Linked DNA regions of Homo sapiens: region 1 is linked to region 2. Evidence: fine-mapped expression QTL. A gene starts in region 2. The other region holds a variant in brackets. All regions are shown on one strand. Distances are from middle to middle.

What was found.
Region 1: its variant is fine-mapped to the expression of LINC01772 in esophagus mucosa (GTEx, PIP 0.97).

Annotation. Positions count from the first base shown.
Region 1 is chr1:16,423,304-16,432,501 of GRCh38, forward strand. SPATA21 (spermatogenesis associated 21) reads right to left here. Exons shown (of 13, transcript NM_198546.1): 3 at 8,035-8,119. The coding sequence starts at 8,068. Among named protein-coding and RNA genes, the nearest start is that of SPATA21, 9.5 kb to the right of the region's middle. The variant C/T (reference allele first, on the strand shown) is at 3,351.
Region 2 is chr1:16,456,197-16,465,394 of GRCh38, forward strand. LINC01772 (long intergenic non-protein coding RNA 1772) reads left to right here and starts at 4,752. Exons shown (of 2, transcript NR_147210.1): 1 at 4,752-7,091. NECAP2 (NECAP endocytosis associated 2) reads left to right here. Exons shown (of 8, transcript NM_018090.5): 8 at 2,646-3,882. The coding sequence ends at 2,694.

The DNA.
Region 1 (9,198 bases), 33 kb before region 2:
TCAGGAGGCTGAGGTGGGAGGATCACTTGAACCCAGGAGGTGGAGGTTGCAGTGACCCAAGATCACACCCCTGCACTCCAGCCTGGGCAACAGGGTGAGACTCCATGTCAAAAAAAAAAAAAAAAAAAAAGTGGTATATTATGGTATATCCATAGAATGGAAATATTACTGAGCAACCAAAAGAACAACATGTTGATACACACAATACATGAATTTCTTTCTCTTTCTCTCTCTCCTTTTTTTTTTTTTTTTTTTTTGGAGACAGAGTCTCACTCTGTTCTCCAGGCTGGAGTGCACTGGCATGATCTCAGCTCACTGCAACCTCCGCCTCCCAGGTTCAAGTGATTCTCCTGCCTCAGCCTCCCGAGTAGCTGGGACTACAGGCACCTGCCACCATGCCCAGCTAATGTTTATATTTTTAGTAGAGACGGGGTTTCACCAGGTTGGCCAAGCTGGTCTTGAACTCCTGACCTCAGGTGATTCACCCGCCTCAGCCTCCCAGAGTGCTGGGATTACAGGCTGAGCCACCGCACCCGACCTAGATGAATCTCAAATAGTCATGTGGAGTGAACGAAGCCAGACAGAAAGAATGTACACTGTACAATTTCATTTGTGTAAAATTCCACGAAATACAAACAAATCTATAGTGATAGTTGGTAGTCGCCTGGGGATAGACTAGTGGGAGGGGGGATGAGAAAGGGCATGAGGAAATGGTTGGGGTGATGGCTATGTTTGCTTTCTTGATTGTGGGGATGGTTTTGTGGGTGTGTACATATGTCAAAATATTAAATTGTACACTTAAAGTATGTGCAAGTGAATGCCAATTATACCTTACTGAAGCTGTTAAAAATAAATCTTACCAGGCTGGGTGCGGTGGCTCACACCTGTAATCCCAGCACTTTGGGAGGCTGAGGCAGGAGAATGGCATGAACCTGGGAGGCAGAGCTTGCAGTGAGCCGAGATTGCGCCACTGCACTCCAGCCTGGGCGACAGAGCAAGACTGTCTCAAAAAAAAAAAAAATCTTACAGATAAATAAAAAAAGATCTTGTGGTCAAATAAGTTTGGGAAAGGCAATATACTCTAACCATATCTTTTTAAAATTTTTTATTTATTTTTTTATTTTTATTTTTTTTGAGACAGGGTTTCACTCTGTCACCCAGGCTGGAGCACAGTGGTGTGATCTTGGCTCACTGCAGCCTGGACCCCAGGCTCAGGGGATCCTCCCATCTCAGTATCTGGAGTAGCTGGGGCCACAGACATGTGCCACCACATCCAGCTAACTTTGGTATTTTTTGTAGGAACGGGGTTTCACCATGTTGCCCTGATCTCAAACTCCTGGGCTCAAGCAATCCTCCCACCTCAGCCTCCCAAAGTGCTGGGATTACAAGCACGAGCCACGGCGCCTGGCCTCTAATCATATCTTGCAAAATCTTACAAAGGCTCAGCAGCTAGTAAACTGCTTCCAGGATATCCTAGCATACAGAAACCTGTTTCAGCTTTGTTAAACTCAGCATGTCCCAATATTATCTGTATACAGAACCTGGCACCTCCTCCCTCCCCCCTGCACCCATTGACATACCGTGGGGCCACTCTGGAAACAAGACTTATTTTTATTTTATTTTTATTTTTTTGAGACGGAGTTTTGCTCTCATTGCCCTGGTTGGAGTGCAATGGCGCGATCTCAGCTCACTGCAACCTCCACCTCCCGTGTTCAAGCAATTCTCCTGCCTCGGCCTCTTGAGTAGCTGGGATTACAGGCATGTGCCACCACACCCGGCTAATTTTATATTTTTTAGTAGAGACAGGGTTTTACCATGTTGGCCAGGCTGGTCTTGACCTCAGGTGATCTGCCTCCTTCGGCCTCCAGAAGTGCTGGGATTAACAGGCGTGAGCCACCATGCCCGGCCTGGAAACAAGACTTAAATGCTTGTGATGTAGGCTGGGGGAATAGCCCAGTGACCCACAGACTGAGTGCTTGACATCTTCAGGGCACAGAGGTGAGCAAACATTCTGTCACCCAGGCTGGAGTGCAGTGGCCTGAACATAGCTCATTGTAGCCTTGACCTCCTGGGCTCAAGGGATCACCCCTGCCTCAGCCTCCCAAGTAGCTGGGACTACAGATACATGCACCAGAATGGGGGGCATGATAGGAGGGGGGCTCTTTCACCTCCTCTGTGGTAGGTCATTCCATACCCTTCTCCCCAGATCTCCTAGGTTACCTGGCAGCTCTCAGGAGGCTGATCCTCCCCGATTCCCCGGTTCCGTTGCCTCCCCTGCTGGCCCTTGATCTCCTTTCCGGAGCCCAGCTGCTGCAGCCCTTCAGGTACTTCAGGAACCCAGGAAGGCAGCAACCCCAGCTCACTCTGATCCTGGCCTGCTTGCAGCTCCTGGGACCCTTCCTGGGGGACCCAAGAGGGCTGTTTCTTCCTGGGGAAAATAGACAAAGTGACACTTTAGCTCCCAGACTGGGGCACTGTTTTATATATTTTTACAGGGCTAGGCATACCATAGGTGCATAGCTAACGCCTGGAAGGACCAATGAAGGACTCACAGGAATTCCCCAAATCATAGACACTTTGATGTCAATGTTTGGGGGAGTTAAAATTTAAACTTTCACAATTATTTGTAGAGACAAGGTCTCTCTGTGTTGCCCAGGCTGGTCTTGAACTCCTGGGCTCAAGCAATCTTCGACCTCGGCCTCCCAAAGTGCTGGGATTAGAGGTACGTGCCATTGCATCCAGCCTAGAATTTAAGTTTTATAGTATTTTTAAACTGTTTTTCAGAAAAAAATGAAACAAAAATCAGAACTGGGATGCAGAGAGGACAAGAGATTTGAGCCTAAGGTCATAAAGCTAAAGATAACTGTTCAAAATTTGAAGCTGTGTCTATCCGATCTCACTTTAGTATTCTGGAGTATTTCCTCCAAGCTTCTTCCTATGCGTATGCATACTTATTTATTTATTTATTTATTTGAGACAGAGTCTTGCTCTGTCACCCAGGTTCGAGTGTAGTGGCATGATCTCAGCTCACTGCAACCTCCACTTCCTGGGCTCAAGCAATCCTCCCGCCTTAGCCTCCCAAGTAGCTGGGACTACAGGCATATGCCACCATGCCTGGCCAATCTTCATATTTTTTGTAGAGATGGGGTTTCACCATGTTGTCCAGGTTGGTCTTGAACTCCTGGGCTTAAGTGATCCGCCAACCTCAACTTCCCAAAGTGTTGAGATTACAGGCGTGAACCATGGTGCCCGGCTATATATATATATATATATATATTTTTTTTTTTTTTTTTTGAGACAGAATTTTGCTCTTGTTGCCCAGGCTGGAGTGCAGTGGAGTGATCTTGGCT[C/T]ACTGCAACCTCTGCCTCCTGGGTTCAAGTGATTCTCCTGCCTCAGCCTCCCAAGTAGCTGGGATTACAGGCATGTGCCACCATGCCCAGCTAGTTTTATATTTTTAGTAGAGATGGGGTTTTGCCATGTTGGCCAGACTGGTTTTAAACCCCTGACCTCAGGTAATCCACCTGCCTTGGCCTCCCAAAGTGCTGGGATTACAGGTGTGAGCCACTGTGCCCGGCCTAATGTACTTTTTTCAATTAACATCATAGCCTGTGTTTTTCGCATGCTAAAAATCCTTCAGAAACATGCTTTATATGTTTTCTTATGTTCATTAAATGTATAAAATTCCATATTTTAAAGATAACCATCATTAACCATTTCCCTATTGTGTGGGCGCTTAAGGGGTTTCTAATTTTTTAGTATTTAAGATAATGTGACAGTGAAAGTCTTTGTGCATAAAACTGCTTGAATCACCAATTATTTCCTCATGGCCTATTTCCAGAAATGGGTGAGGATAAAGGGAGTTTCAAGGCAGTTTAAACAAATTGCCACGTTGATGAAACAGGTATGCTTAAATGGTTTCTATTTCCACCGGCATGGTATGCAGTAGTTGTCTCAGTGGGCCTCGGACCTGGCTTGAGTTGTCTCTCCTAACTTTTCTTGTAGAGGAGGCTATTTAGGAGCTTCTGGTTATAGTCAAATCCAACTAAGCCAGCTAGTCTTTACTATTTCTATTATCCCAGCCTTTCACTTTGCCTCTATCTGGCTCGCTCTTGATTTTCTCTTTTTGAATACATTCTTGCTGTAGAAAAGTTTTAAAAAAACACAAAATTTAGAAAACAATTACGTGTACATCTTTACATGTTCCTGTGTCTCCTAACCTTTTTTTGTTCATTATTCTATTAATTCAGTGAATCAATATTTATCGAACATTTACTATGTGTCAGGCATAGTACTAGGCATGAGGGCTTTGAGGTTGAACCAGGTATATGATGCTCCTCAAACAAGACACATAAAAGATGTTTGTGGTCTCGTTGGGGGAGTTCAGACAAAAGGTTAACATGAACTCTTTAGTGCAACTGGTGCAATGAAAGAGAAGGACAAGGTGCTGTCGTGGGTGGAGCTGCCTTGGCCTGGGAGTTCTCCATTCTCTCTCTCTCCCCCGCGGGTGGGCTACAGGGGGTTCTCTCTTGGACCTGTTCTCTCGAGAGCCCCTCAGCTCACCCTGGTCTTGCTGGAGGCCCCTGCTCCTGGATTCTGAGCTCTGAAGGCCCCTTCTCAAATGCATCTCTGAGTCTGGGCCCCTTCTCTGGCCCTCGTGAAGCTGATGAGAGGTGCTTCTTGCTGCCCACTTCCGAAGCATCCGGAAACATGACCTGGACAGAGATATCCATGGCAGTGGCTTGAGGGCTGGCATTGAGTACCCGTTCTGGAGTGATCCCTCCCACTCCTCCCTGGGTACTCTTCTGGCCTCAAGGACAGGGAGATCCTGTGCCTGATTGGGGAAGCTGTTGGAGAGGGGTGAGCAGGAGCTGAGAGGCAGGGATGCAGGGCCCGGCCCTGCTGTTGCTGTTGCTTAGCACGTAAGGCTCTGGTATGAACTGGAGTCCAGATTAGTACCCGAGACAAGGGGATTGCCTTAAGGACAGCTTGAAAGAGCACCCTGGGGGACCCCAAGACTCTCACAAGGTCCAAGAGACGCCTTCAACAATTCCCATGCCTTCAAAACGCAGGCTCTAGTTTGAACTGAGTTTTTATTTCATTTTTTGAGAGAGAGTTTCCCTCCTTTGCCCAGGCTGGAGTGCAGTGGCACAGTCTCGGCTCACTGCAACTTCCACCTGCTGGGTTCAAGCGATTCTTGTGCCTCAGCTTCCCGAGTAGGTGGGATTACAGGTGTGCGCCACCATGCCCAACTAATTTTTTTTTTTTATTTTTTTTGTAGGCCAGGCTGGTCTCGAACTTCTGACCTCAAGTGATCCGTCTGCCTCAGCCTCCCAAAGTGCTGGGATTACAGGCATGAGGCACCGCACCTGGCCTGAACTGGGTTTTGATCACTATCATGGTCTGTCACTCTCCAACTGGGTGACCTGGAGCCAGTGACTGAGACCCCGCTCCAAGCATCACCGGAGTCAGCAAACTCCAAACAAATGGACTTAATTAACTCATTGACATTGATATAATACAAGATTCTGATGTGAGCTAATACTAACAGGCACCTACTATGAGACAGGGCCTGTGCTAGGTGCCTTAGTCAACACCGTAAAACAAATGAGGCTGCAAGGGGTGCAGTGACAGGCCCAACATCACACAGCTGGGTAAGTGGTGGGACTGGGACCCCATGACGGTGCTTGTTGAAAAAATAAATGGGTGGATGAAGGAAGCCCTGAATGTTCACCTCTAGCCTCTCTCCTAGCCTCCTCCCCTCCAGGCCCTCTCCCTGCCCCAGGGGAAGTGAGGATTTATAACAGAGGCTACAGGGAACATACCCAAGGGCATGTTGACTTTTTATTTTTTTTTTTGGCTTTTTTTTTCTTTTCCTTTTTGTGGAGAACGGGGTCTCGCTATATTGCCCAGGCAGGCCTCGAACTCCTGGACTCAAGCTCTCCTCCCGCCTCTGCCTCCCTAAGAGCTGGGATCACAGGCGTGAGCCACCGCGCCTGGCTTTGTTTTTTTTTTGAGACGGGGTCTCACGATGTTGCCCAGGCTGGTCTTTAACTCCTGGGATCAAGCAATCCACCTATCTCTGCCTCCCAAAGTATTGGGAGCAGGCGTGAGCCATGGCACCTGGCTGACTTTTTATTTTATTGTATTGTATTTTATTTATTTGTTTGTTTGTTTGTTTATTTATTTTTGAGATGGAGTTTCACTCTTGTTGCCCAGGCTGGAGTGCAATGGTGCAATCTCCGCTCACCGCAACCTCCACCTCCCAGGTTCAAGCGATTCTCCTGCCTCAGCCTCCCAAGTTGCTGGGATTACAGGCATGCACCACCATGCCAGGCTAATTTTGTATTTTTAGTAGAGACTGGGTTTCTCCATGTTGGTCAGGCTGGTCTTGAACTCCCGACCTCAGGTGATCCACCCGCCTCGGCCTCCCAAAGTGCTGGGATTACAGGCGTGAGCCACCGCGCCCGGCTGGCTGACTTTTTAAATGGTGATATCTTTGGCCCTGAGGAAACTGGATGGTGAGGAGGGTCTTCTTTATGCTCTTCAGTTCATGCTACTTGGCACATTCAAAAAGAGGCCAGTGGGGCGCAGTGGCTCACGCCTGTAATCCTAACATTTTGGGAGGCCGAGGTGGGCGGATCACTTGGGGTCAGGAGTTCAAGACCAGCCTGTCCAACATGGTGAAATCCCATCTCTTCTAAAAATACAAAAAAAATTAGACGGAAATCATTTGAACCCAGGAGGCAGAGGTTGCAGTGAGCCATGATCACACCATTGCACTCCAGCCTGGGTGACAGCAAGACTCTATCTCAAAAAAAAAAAAAAAAAAAAAAAAAAGAAGATGCCGGACACGGAGGCTTATGCCTGTAATCCCAACACTTTGGGAGGCTGAGGCAGACAGATCACTTGAGCCCATGAGTTCAAGACCAGCCTGGGCAACATGATAAAGCCTTGTCTCTACAAAAAATTAAAAAAATAGTTGGGTATGGTGGCACAAGCCACGCCTATAGTTCCAGCTACTCAGGAGGCTGAGGCAGGAGGATCGCTTAAGCCTGGGAGTTCGAGGCTGCAGTGAGTCGTGATCGCACCACTGCACTCCAGTCTGGGTGAGAGAGTGAGAGCCTGTCTCAAAAATAAACAAACAAACAAACTAATAAACATATTTGATGGAAAGAGGCTGAGAGGTGTGATGGAAGCTTAGGATGCAGGCTGGGCTCTGGGGAGGGGCATGGAGGGAAGCCCTGAGTAGCTCTCAGGAGAATAAAGCTGGGCTGGAGGCTGTGAGGGGAGTTTGGAGGCCATGCAAGGCACCTAGAAGAGCGAGTAGGCAATTCTGGGTTTGCTCACCCTGCAGCTCTTTCCGTTACAGAAGCCAGCATTGTTTTTGGGAAGCTTCTCTTCTCCATTCAGCCCATGGGGCTCAGTGGAGCCACCTATCACCTCTGTCTCCATTGTATCAAGAGATCCAGACCACTCCCCACTGCCATGGTGATTGGTTCAAGGATGAGCATCTGACCACAATCTGGGCCAATGACAGTGATGCTAGAGACTTGTTTCAACTATTGCAAAGAGGCTCACTTCCTGTTGGAATGCTAAACCAGAGGGTGTAAGATGGGAAGATGTAATCCTGGAGTGGCCAGGGCAATCCCTGCCATCTTGCAGGGAGAGCTTGCCTGAGAATGAATCCAACACGGAGGAACATAGAGCCAAGAGATACTCATTTAGCACATTGATCTAGCCATACCTGAAGTCTATGAAGGCATGTGTCAGTTACCCAAACTGATATATTCTCTTTTCTGCTTAATCCAGTTTGAATTGGGTTTTGTGTCCATTTTTAACAGAGTCTTAATTAAAGCAGCTGGGGAGGAAGCCTGGGCAGGGGAAGGGAAAGGTGCCAGCTAGGAGTGAATGGATCAGAACATGGGGTGCAGGTCCCTACCTTGCTGACTCCTGGTATGATGGGCTCAACACCAGCCCTCTTTATGGTGATCCTCAGGCCAGGACTTGGCTGCGTCCCTGGAGCCTTGGTTCTACCCTCCGTGTACATCTGGGTGTTTCTATTGTCCATGATGCCAGCGCCAACACGGGTGCCAAGTGAGGGGCATCACCTAGTGTGCTCCTACAGGAGAAATCCAATCAAGCGTCCCACCAAGCCCATCACCTAACTGCTGCTTCAGGAGCCCACTTGGAGCCTATAATGTAGACAGCCTGGCTCGAGGGAAGAGGCGGGGCCAGGCCTTGCAAGGAGAGGCACGCAGCAAAACCAGAGAGCTAGCCACATGCCATTTACCCATACGCTTTTCCTAGTTCTCACTATGACCCTGAGGAAAAGGGGCTCTGGAAGGCACAAGACTTGCCCAAGATCTAACACCTGCTAGGTCGCAGACGAGGATTTGAACCATGGCCTGTTGAATCCCAAAACCCAGGCGCTTTCCCCGACGGCGACATTTCCTACAGGGTATTCTTTGGCATACTGGTCCCTTCAGATGCTCCAAGGGGTTCCAAGGCTAAATGCCTTTGGAAAGTGCTGTGATGAGCGAAATGATACAGGCTCTTTCCTGTACAACTTCTCAGAGCCTTTAAAATACTAATGTGCCTTTTAAAGAGAGTCCAAGAATGTCACAGCTGCTCCTGCTATAGATGAAAACTCCATGTTCTTAGATGGGGCTAAGGAACAAGAACTAGGGACATCTGTCCATCTGTCTCAGGGCCCCAAAGTCTCCAGCGGCAATCTGCAGTTCACCAAAGCACCCACACCCTGCCCTGGACACATCCTTTCTTTTTCTTTTTCTTTTCTTCTTCTTCTTCTTCTTTTTTTTTTTTTTTTGTTTGTTTTGAGACAGAGTCTCGCTCTGTTGCCCAGGCTGGAGTGCAGTGCTGCAATCTTGGCTCACTGCAACCTCTGCCTCCTGGGCTCAAGCAATTCTCCTGCCTCAGCCTCCCTACTAGCTGGGATTTTAGGCGGCCGCCACCATGCCCGGCTAATTTTTGTATTTTTAGTAGAGATGGGGTTTCACCAGGTTGGCCACGCTGGTCTTGAACTCCTGACCTCAAGTGATCCGCCCGCCTCGGCCTCCCAAAGTGTTGGGATTACAGGTGTGAGCCACTGCACCTGGCCATTTCTGAAGCCTTTCATCTCTCCTCCACCTCTTTCATCCAACCTCATGTTCAGCTGTGCCACCACCCCCTACACAAACT
Region 2 (9,198 bases):
ATATTTTTAGTAGAGATGGGGTTTTACCATGTTCGTCAGGGTTGTCTTGAACTCCTGACCTCAGGCGATCCACCTGCCTCGTCCTCCCAAAGTACTGGGATTACAGGCATGAGCCACCGCGCCTGGCCTGATTTGGATGTTTTCAAGCTAGCCAGAGGACAGAGCCCCAGCGTGCCTGCTTTGGGTGGCACACGTCTTTCCGTGGAGGTTTTGCTGCTTTCCAGTGCTATATAGCCTGGGGCAACCCTTTGCAAATCTGGGCCTTTAAACCGCCTTCCCAAGTGCTTTGGCTTGTCCCCAGTACCTCCTTCTTCTATACCCCATCCCCCACCTTCCCCAAAATAGTGGACTGAGAGTTCAGACCCAGGCTCCAGCCTCAGCCCATCCTCATAGAACGCCTGAGGCTAGGTGGCTTGTCTTCTCTGATTCCATAAGATCTCAAGACTTTACTTGGGGCCAGGGTGAAAAGATACTAAATTCCTACTGCACTATTATTTACATGGACAGATTCTAGGACAGGGGTCAGCACACATTTTCTTTTTCTTTTCATGTTTTGAGACAGGGTCTCTCTCTGTCACCCAGGCTGGAGTGCAGTGGCACTATCACGGCTTACTGCAACCACATTCTCCCATGTTGCTGGCTCTACAGGTGCACATCACCATGCCAGCTATTTTTTGTATTTTTTCATAGATACGGGGTTTTGCCATGTTGCGCAGGCTGGCCTTGAACTCCTGGGCTCAAGCGATCTGCCTGCCTCGGCCTCCCAGAGTGCTGGGATTATAGGCACGAGCCAGTGTGCCCAGCCACATTTTCTGTAAAGGACTAGATAGCAAATAGTTTAGACTATTCAGGCCGTGTGGTCTTCGTTCTAGCTACTCAGTTCTGCTCTTGTTGCACAAAAGCAGCCACAGACAATATGTAAATAAATCAGCATGGCTGTGTGCCAGTAAAATTTTATTTACAAAAATAGAGGCATGGGCTGGGCGCGGTGGCTCATGCCTGTAATCCCAGCACTTTGGGATTCCCAGGCAGGCGGATCACCTGAGGTCAGGAGTTCAAGACCAGCCTGGCCAACATGGTCAAACCCCATCTCTACTAAATACACAAAAATTAGTTGGGCGTGGTGGGGTGGTGCCTGTAATCCCAGCTACTTGGGAGGCTGAGGCACGAGAATTGCTTGAACCCGGGAGATTGCAGTCAGCTGACATCATGCCACTCTAGTCCAGCCTGGGTCACAAGAGCAAGACTCCATCTCAAAAAACAAATAAACAAACAAAAAAAACAGAGGCGTGAAATGAGGACTGTAACCCTTTTCCTGTTTGCCCTGAGAAAACTTGCCAGTGGCACTTCAGACTGCAGCGTTGACCCTGAGATAACTTTGCCACAAAATGTATTGCTTTTATATTATTTTTGCATCGCTCTAGTATATCAGCTTTGGAACAAAAGACATTCTATTTATAGCATTCTGTTTTTAATAGTGGTATTTCCATTTACAAAATATAGTAATTCTGTTTTTTTTTTTTTTTTTTTTTTGAGACAAGGTTTCACTCTGGTTGCCTAGGCTGGAGTGCAGTGGCGTGATGTCGGCTCACTGCATCCTTGACCTTCCAGGCTCAGGTGATTATCCCTTAGCCTCCTGAGTAGCTGGGACTACAGGCAATTGCCACCACACCCGGCTAATTTTTTGTATTTTTAGTAGAGGCGGGGTTTTGCTATGTTGCCCAGGCTGGTCTGGAACTCCTGGAATCCAGCAGTCCGCCTACCTCAGCCTCCCAGAGTGCTGGGATTACAGGCGTGAACTACCATGCCTGGCCCAAAATATAGTAATTATTGATTACTGAAAAAGTCAAATCCTAGAAAACGCAGCATTCTTACATGTGATGTTAACATCGTTCTTGAACAGTTTTTAGCCTAAGATTCATTTGAGGAGTCTGATTTTTCCAAAATAGTTCTGATTATTCAGATGATTCTGAAATAACTCCAAGAACAGTTTTTATATTTTATTTTCACGTTGAAAATCAGTCAGATTTGCTTCAGCCTCAAAGAGCATGTTTATGTAAAATTAAATGAGGGCTGGCAGTGAGCTATATTTTTTCTACATGGGAAAGGGGTTAAGACTCTTCGGCCAGGCATGTTGGCTCACGCCTGTAATCCCAGCACTTTGGGAGGCCAAAGCAGGCAGATCACTTGAGGCCAGGAGTTCGAGACCAGCCTGGGCAACATGGCAAAACCCTGTGTCTACTAAAAGAAATACAAAAATTAACCGGTCATGTAGTTCCAGCTACTAGGGAGGCTGAGGTAGGAGGATCGCTTGAGCTCAAGAGGTTGAGGCTATAGTTGGCCTTGAGTGTGCCACTGCATTCCAGCCTGGGCGACAGTGAGACCCTGTCTCAAAAAAAAAACAAAACAAAAAACAAAACCACAAACAAAAAACTTTGGTAAATACAGTTACATTAACTATTTAAAAAAAAAAAACCATCGAGGGCCAGATTTGGTCTCTGTGCCAGAGTTTGCTGACTGCTGCTCTAGAACATTTAGGAACTGGCTTCTTAGAGCTTTTTCTGTCCAGAGAGAAACCAACTTTTATCTGCTTTGTATTTTCAAAGATCTGAACTCCCCCACCCTTCCCTGTCTTCTCTTTACAGATCAACTTCCAGCCAGACCCAGCCAGGCACAGGCTGGGTCCAGTTCTGACCTGAGCACGGTTTTTCCTCATGTGACTTCTGGGAAGGCGCTCCCTCATCTGGGCCAAAGGAAGGAGGACGAAGCCCTCCTCAGCTGGCCTGTGTTTGGGGCATGAATCTCTCCTCTCCTCCTTGTCTGGCTCTGTTGACAAACCGGGCATGTTTGGCAGTAAATTGGCACCGTGTCACACTGTTTCCTGGGATTCAAGTATGCAACCAGAACACAGGAGAAGAAAAGCTCCAGGATCCCTGTCCCCATCTGTCCTCTTGATGTGAGAGAGACTCTGAGACTTCTTCCATCGCAATGACCTGTATTAAACACAAGCCCCCCAAGCAAAAGAAGAGGTTGAGTTTGCTGCCAGGATTCAGATCAGCCCTTCCCAGGGTCTGCAGGTGTCACATGATCACAGTTCAGCGGGAGGCTTTCCGTACCCACACTGGCTGTAGCCACTTCAGTCCATCTGCCCTCCAGAGGAGGGGTTTCTTCCTGATTTTTAGCAGGTTTAGAGGCTGCAGCTTGAGCTACAATCAGGAGGGAAATTGGAAGGATTAGCAGCTTTTAAAAATGTTTAAATATTTTGCTTTGCTAATGTGCTGATCCGCACTAACTCATCTTTGCAAAAGGAACTGCTCCCTCGGCGTGCCCCAGCTGGGGCCTCTGAAGGGATTCCTCACTGTGGGCAGCTGCCCTGAGCTTCAGGCAGCAGTGTTTATCTCTGGCCAGTTGTCTGGTTTCCATGTATTCTAGGCCAGGTAGGCAACACAGAGCCAAGGCGGGTGCTGGAAGCCAGACGGAACAGTGTTGGGGCAGGAAGGTGGATGCTGTTGTCATGGAGCTGTGGGAGTTGGCACTCTGTCTGCTGGTGGCCCTCTCGGCTCACATGTTCACAGTGCAGCTCCTGGCAGACTTGGGTTTTCTCTTTGGTGGTTTCTAAAGTGCCTTATCTGCAAACAACTTCTTTTCTCCTTCAGGAACTGTGAATGGCTAGAAGAAGGAGCTCAGTAAACTAGAAGTCCAGGGTTGCTTGGTTTACTGGTTTATAAGAAATCTGAAAGCACCTCTGACATTCCTTTTATTAACTCACCTCTCAGTTGAAAGATTTCTTCTTTGAAAGGTCAAGACCGTGAACTGAAAAAAGTGTTGGCCTTTTTGCGGGACCAGATTTTTAAGATAAAATAAATATTTTTACTTCTGTCATTGTATGTGAAAGATGAATGTGTTTCTGGCCGCGTGGCTGTTAAACTCTTCAGGGTGCCACAGCTAGACTCACGGCCACTTCTCTCACCACTGACCAAGTGTCCAGATTGAAAGTTCAGGGCTGGGGTGTGAGGCTGGCCAAAGTGAGGAAATGCAACCTTGTTGTCTAAGGCAATCGGTACCTTCTCTCCTGTGTTCTCTAGGATAGTACAGTCTTTTCATCATCCTTTGGTTGATGTGAAAGTAGTTGCTTGAATCACTTTGTGTGGGGCTTAATTCTCTTGTGGCGTCTCATGATACAGGCCGTTCTAGAGAGCCTGGCCCCTTGCTTTCCGTCTTCCACCAAACCTACCGGCAGAGCATCTCCCTAAGTAGTAAAGGGGTGCAGATACCCAGAGGTCAAAAGTAAAATTAAGAGGCCGGGTGCAGTGGCTCACGCCTGTAATCCCAGCACTTTGAGAGGCCAAGACGGGAGGATCATTTGAGGCTGGGAGTTTGGGACCAGCCTGGGCAACATAGTAAGATGCATTTCTTTCCTTTTTTTTGAGACACAGTCTCAGTCTGTTGCCCTGGCTGGAGTGCAGTGGAGCAATCTTGGTCACTACAACCTCCGCCTCCCAGGTTAAAGTGATTCTCCTACCTCAACCTTTCCAGTAGCTGAGATTACAGGCACCTACCACACCGAGCTAATTTTTGTATTTTTTCAGTAGAGATGGGGTTTCACCATGCTGGCCAGGCTGGTCTCAAACTCCTGACCTCAAGTTATCTGCCCGCCTTGGCCTCCCAAAGTGCTGGGATTATAGGCGTGAGCCACGGCACCCGGCTGTTAGACCCCATTTCTTAAAAAAAAAAAAAAAAAAAAAAATTAGTGTGGTGGTGGTGCATGCTTGGAATCCTAACTACTTGCGAGGCTGAGGTGGGAGAATTGCTTGAGCCCAGGAGTTTGAGGCTGCAGTGAGCTATGATCACGGCCTCGCACTCCAGTCTAGGCAGCAGTGAGACCCTAGAGAATTCTCTAAAAGAATTAAAAATGAAAAAAAGCCACAACACTTCTTTTGCCTGAGGATTCTGTAAGAAGCAGTTTTTATTGTTATGGAAATAGCCACTCTGATTAAGAAACTGTAGAGAGGAGAAAGAAAATGAAAATTGAAGATTCTCTTGCCCATTGAATTAAGGGTAAGGAGATTGCATTAAAGGATCTTCGGGAGCAGTAACTTTTTTATGTCGATTTCACATAGCATTACTTCACATCGAGTCAGTTTTAAGTACTTGGAGGGTGGAAATCAGAAAGCTTAGATGTAGAGGAAGCTTTATTAGAAGTGTGTACCATGGCTGGGTGTGGTGGCTCATGCCCACAATCCCAGCACTTTGGGAGGCCGAAGTGGGTGGCTTACTTGAGGTTAGGAGTTCGAGACCAGCCTGGCGAACATGGTGAAACCCCGTCTACTAAAAATACAACAATTAGCCAGGCATGGTGGCGCACGCCTGTAATCCCAGCTACTTGAGAAGCTGAGGCATGAGAATTGCCTCCAGGAAGTGGAGGTTGCAGTGAGCTGAGATCATGCCACTGTACTCTAGCCTGGGCAACAGAGCAAGACTGTCTCAAAAGGAAAAAAAAAAAAAGTATGTACCATTGAAGATCAGCACTTGGATTGTGGAGACAGACCTGGCCTTAGGATCTAGGCTATCCCCTGGTTAGACGTGTGGCCACAGGCTGTTCCTTCACCTGAGCGTCACTCGGATGAGGCACTAGCAGATGCACATTGCATTGTTTGACCTTAATGACCTTTCTCTGGAGTCAGGTAAGTACCCAGAACAGTTCATCATGGTAGGGAGGAGGAGGTGGCACAGCTGATGACACAGCCCTCAGGAATCTAGCCTGAAAAGCACCTTGTGGGGTCTGGGGCCAGGAGCAAGGGACAGCTTGATGCTGTCCATCACTAACTGGAATCCCAGCTGGAAAAAACTCATTACAGGACCAGAATCTCCAGGAAAACTCAATCCCAAACCAGGCATCACTTCAATTACACCCCTGACTGGAGTTTACAAACTGGTGGGTGGATGGTAGAAGATGGCTGCTTTCTTGGGGGGTATGCTAGACCTCACTTGCCCTCTGCACAACAGAATTTGGATGCACTGGGAGGTGTGGCAGATAGACTCCCAGGTGGTCACTGTGATCCCCACCTGCTGTTCACAGCCTTATGTACTCCCTGCCCCTTGAGATGGCCTAGACCTGTGACTGCTAACCAGTAGAGTGCCACAAAGGTGACAAGATGTTATTTTCATGGTTGCCTTATGTAAGACTGCAACATCTGCCTTGCTGAGAAATTCTCTTGCTGGCTTTGAAGAAGGAAGCTGTCATGTTGTGTGAGCTGCCCTTGGGAGAGGGTCAGGTGGCTAGGAACTGAGGTAGCCTCTGACAGCCAACAAGAAACTGAAGCTCAGTCCAGCAGTCTGCAAGAAAGCAAATGCTGCCAGCAACCACACAAGCTTGGAGGCTGATCACTCCCAGGTAAGCCTTCAGGTGAGACCCCAGGCCTGACCAACACTGACTGCAGCCTTGCAGAGGACCAGCTAAGCTGTGCCCAGACTGTCCCATAGGAACAGATGGTAAATGTATTGTGTTAAGTCGCTAAGTTTCTGGTAAGGTTATGCAGCAATAGATAACCAACACAAAGGTTAGCAAAGTGTGTTTGAGGTGGGAATCAGTGTGGAAAAGAGAGAATCTGGATAGACTTAATAGCTGTAGGGCCTTGGGAGGTCCCTTATGATGCTCCTTTGGGCCTTCCTGTTGCCTTTAAGTAATGCTTATTGTTTATTGCTAAAGTAATGCTTAACTCTCTGCTAGGCACTATTCTATGCACTTATAAAACTCATTGCATCATCTCTACAACCCCATGAGGTAAGGACTTGTTTTTTTTGTGTTTTGAGACAGTCTCGCTCTGTGGCCCAGGCTGGAATGCAGTGGCATGATCTCAGCTCACTGCAACCTCTGCCTCCTGCGTTCAAGCAGTTCTTCTGCCTCAGCCTCCGAGTAGTTGTGATTACAGACGTGTGCCAGTACTTCCGGCTAATTTTTTTGATTTTTAGTAGAGACGGGGTTTCATCATGTTGGCCAGGCTGGTCTCAAATTCCTGACCTCAAGTGATCAGCCTGCCTTGGCCTCCTAAAATGCTGGGATTACAAGTGTGAGCCACCGCACCTGGCCAGTAAGTACTTGTTTTAGTCTATTTGGGACTATGACAGAATAACATAGCCTGGGTAGTTTATAAACAAAAGAAATTTTTTGCTCACAGTTCTGGAGGCTGGGAAGTCCAAGGCACCAGCAGATTCGGTGTCTGGTGAGGCCGTCTTTTTGCTGTAACCTCACATGGTAGAAGGGGCAATAGAGTACTCTGGGGACTTTTTTTTTTTTTTTTTTTTTTTTTTAAGAGATGGAGTCTTGCTATATTGACCAGGCTGATCTCAAACTCCTGGCCTCAAGTGATCCTCCTGCTTTGGCCGCCCAAAGTGCTGGGCTTAAAGGCATGAGCCACCACATGGGAATGGCACTGCCTTTTTTTTTTTTAAAGATAGTTTTGCTCTTATTGCCCAGGCTGGAGTGTGATCTTGGCTCACTATAACCTCTGCCTGTTGGGTTCAAGCAATTCTCCTGCCTTAGCCTCCCAAGTAGCTGGGACTACAGGCACATGCCACCACGCCCAGCTAATTTTTGTATTTTTAGTCAAGATGGTGTTTTGCCTTATTGGCCAGGCTGGTCTCAAACTCCTGACCTCATGATCCACCTGCCTCAGCCTCCCAAAGTGCTGGGATTATAGGCGTGAGCCACCACACCTGGCTGGGGCTTCCTTATAAGGGCAATACTGTTTGTGAGGGCTCTACGCTTATGACATAATTACCTTCCAAAGAACTCACCTCCAAATACCATCATACTAGGGGTTAGGTTTCAGTATGAATTTGGAGGTGGGGGTGGACACAAATGTTTATAGCAGTACTCATCCCTGTTTCGAAAATGAGAAATGCAGAGAAATTATATAATTTGTTCAAAGTCACATGGTTGGTAAGTGGCAGAGCTGGGATTTGAACCCAGGCAGTCTGGCTCCAGCATCCATGCTTTTAGTCAGGGTGGCTACTTCTTTGGAGCAGTGCTCCCTGCAAAGCCTGGCACATAAGACCCCCTTAATATATGAAAAGTCCCATTCCCTCCACATGGCTTACGAAAGCCGTGGCAAGTAGGAATGACAGGCGAAGGGTGGGGCTTTATTCCATTGGTGATTGAAAGCTACTGAAATGCATCATGGGCACACAGTAGGTGCTTAATAGTTGTCGATTTCTATGAGCTGGGAGTGAGAAAGATACCATGCTCTGTGGACTGAGTGGACTGGAGTAGGGAAAAGACCAATTTTTCCTCACCGCAGCTTGAATGTAGACAGATACTGTTTTTTTTTTTTTTTCTTTTTTTTTTTTTTTTTTTTTTAGCCAACCATACAAAGCCTGTAAGTAGGTACTTTATTTATTTGTATTTTTATTTTTTTTTGAGACAGATTTTCACTCTTGTTGCCCAGGCTAGAGTGCAATGGTGCAATCTTAGCTCACTGCAACCTCCACCTCCCAGGTTTAAGCGATTCTCCTGCCTCAGCCTCCCAAGTAGCTGGGATTACAGGCTTCCGCCACCATGCCTGGCTAATTTTTGTATTTTTAGTAGAGACAAGGTTTCATCCTGTTGGCCAGGCTGGTCTCAAACTCCTGACCTCAGGTGATCCGCCTACCTCAGCCTCCCAAAGTGCTGGGATTACAGGCATGAGCCACCACACCCGCCCAAAATGACCTGCATTTGTCATCTCCGCTTCTGTGGTCAGGAATCTGGTGCAGCTCAGCTGGGTCACAGGCCTCTCACAGGCTGCAGTCAAGGTGTCAGTCGAGGCCGCACTGTCATCTTAAGGCCCAGCAGGGAAAGCGTTTGCTTCCAAGCTCGCTCACGTGGTTTTGGGCATGATTCTGTTCCTCGTGGCTGTTGGACAGAGGTCACTCTCATTTTCTTTCCACGTAGGCCTCTGCATAGTTCACATCTTTGCAGTTGCTTCATTGAAGCCAGCAAACGTGATTGTGGCAAGATAGCAGTCATAGTTTTAATTCCAGAAATGATCCCATCCCTTGGCTGGGTCTTCAGAGTAGAAGTCACAAGTCCTGTCCGCACTAAGTGGAGGGTGTGGATACCAGGAGGCAAGGATCATTGAGAGCCATCTTAGAAGTCTACCTGGCCGGGGTGCAGTGGCTCACGCCTGTAATCCCAGCACTCTGAGAGGCTGAGGTGGG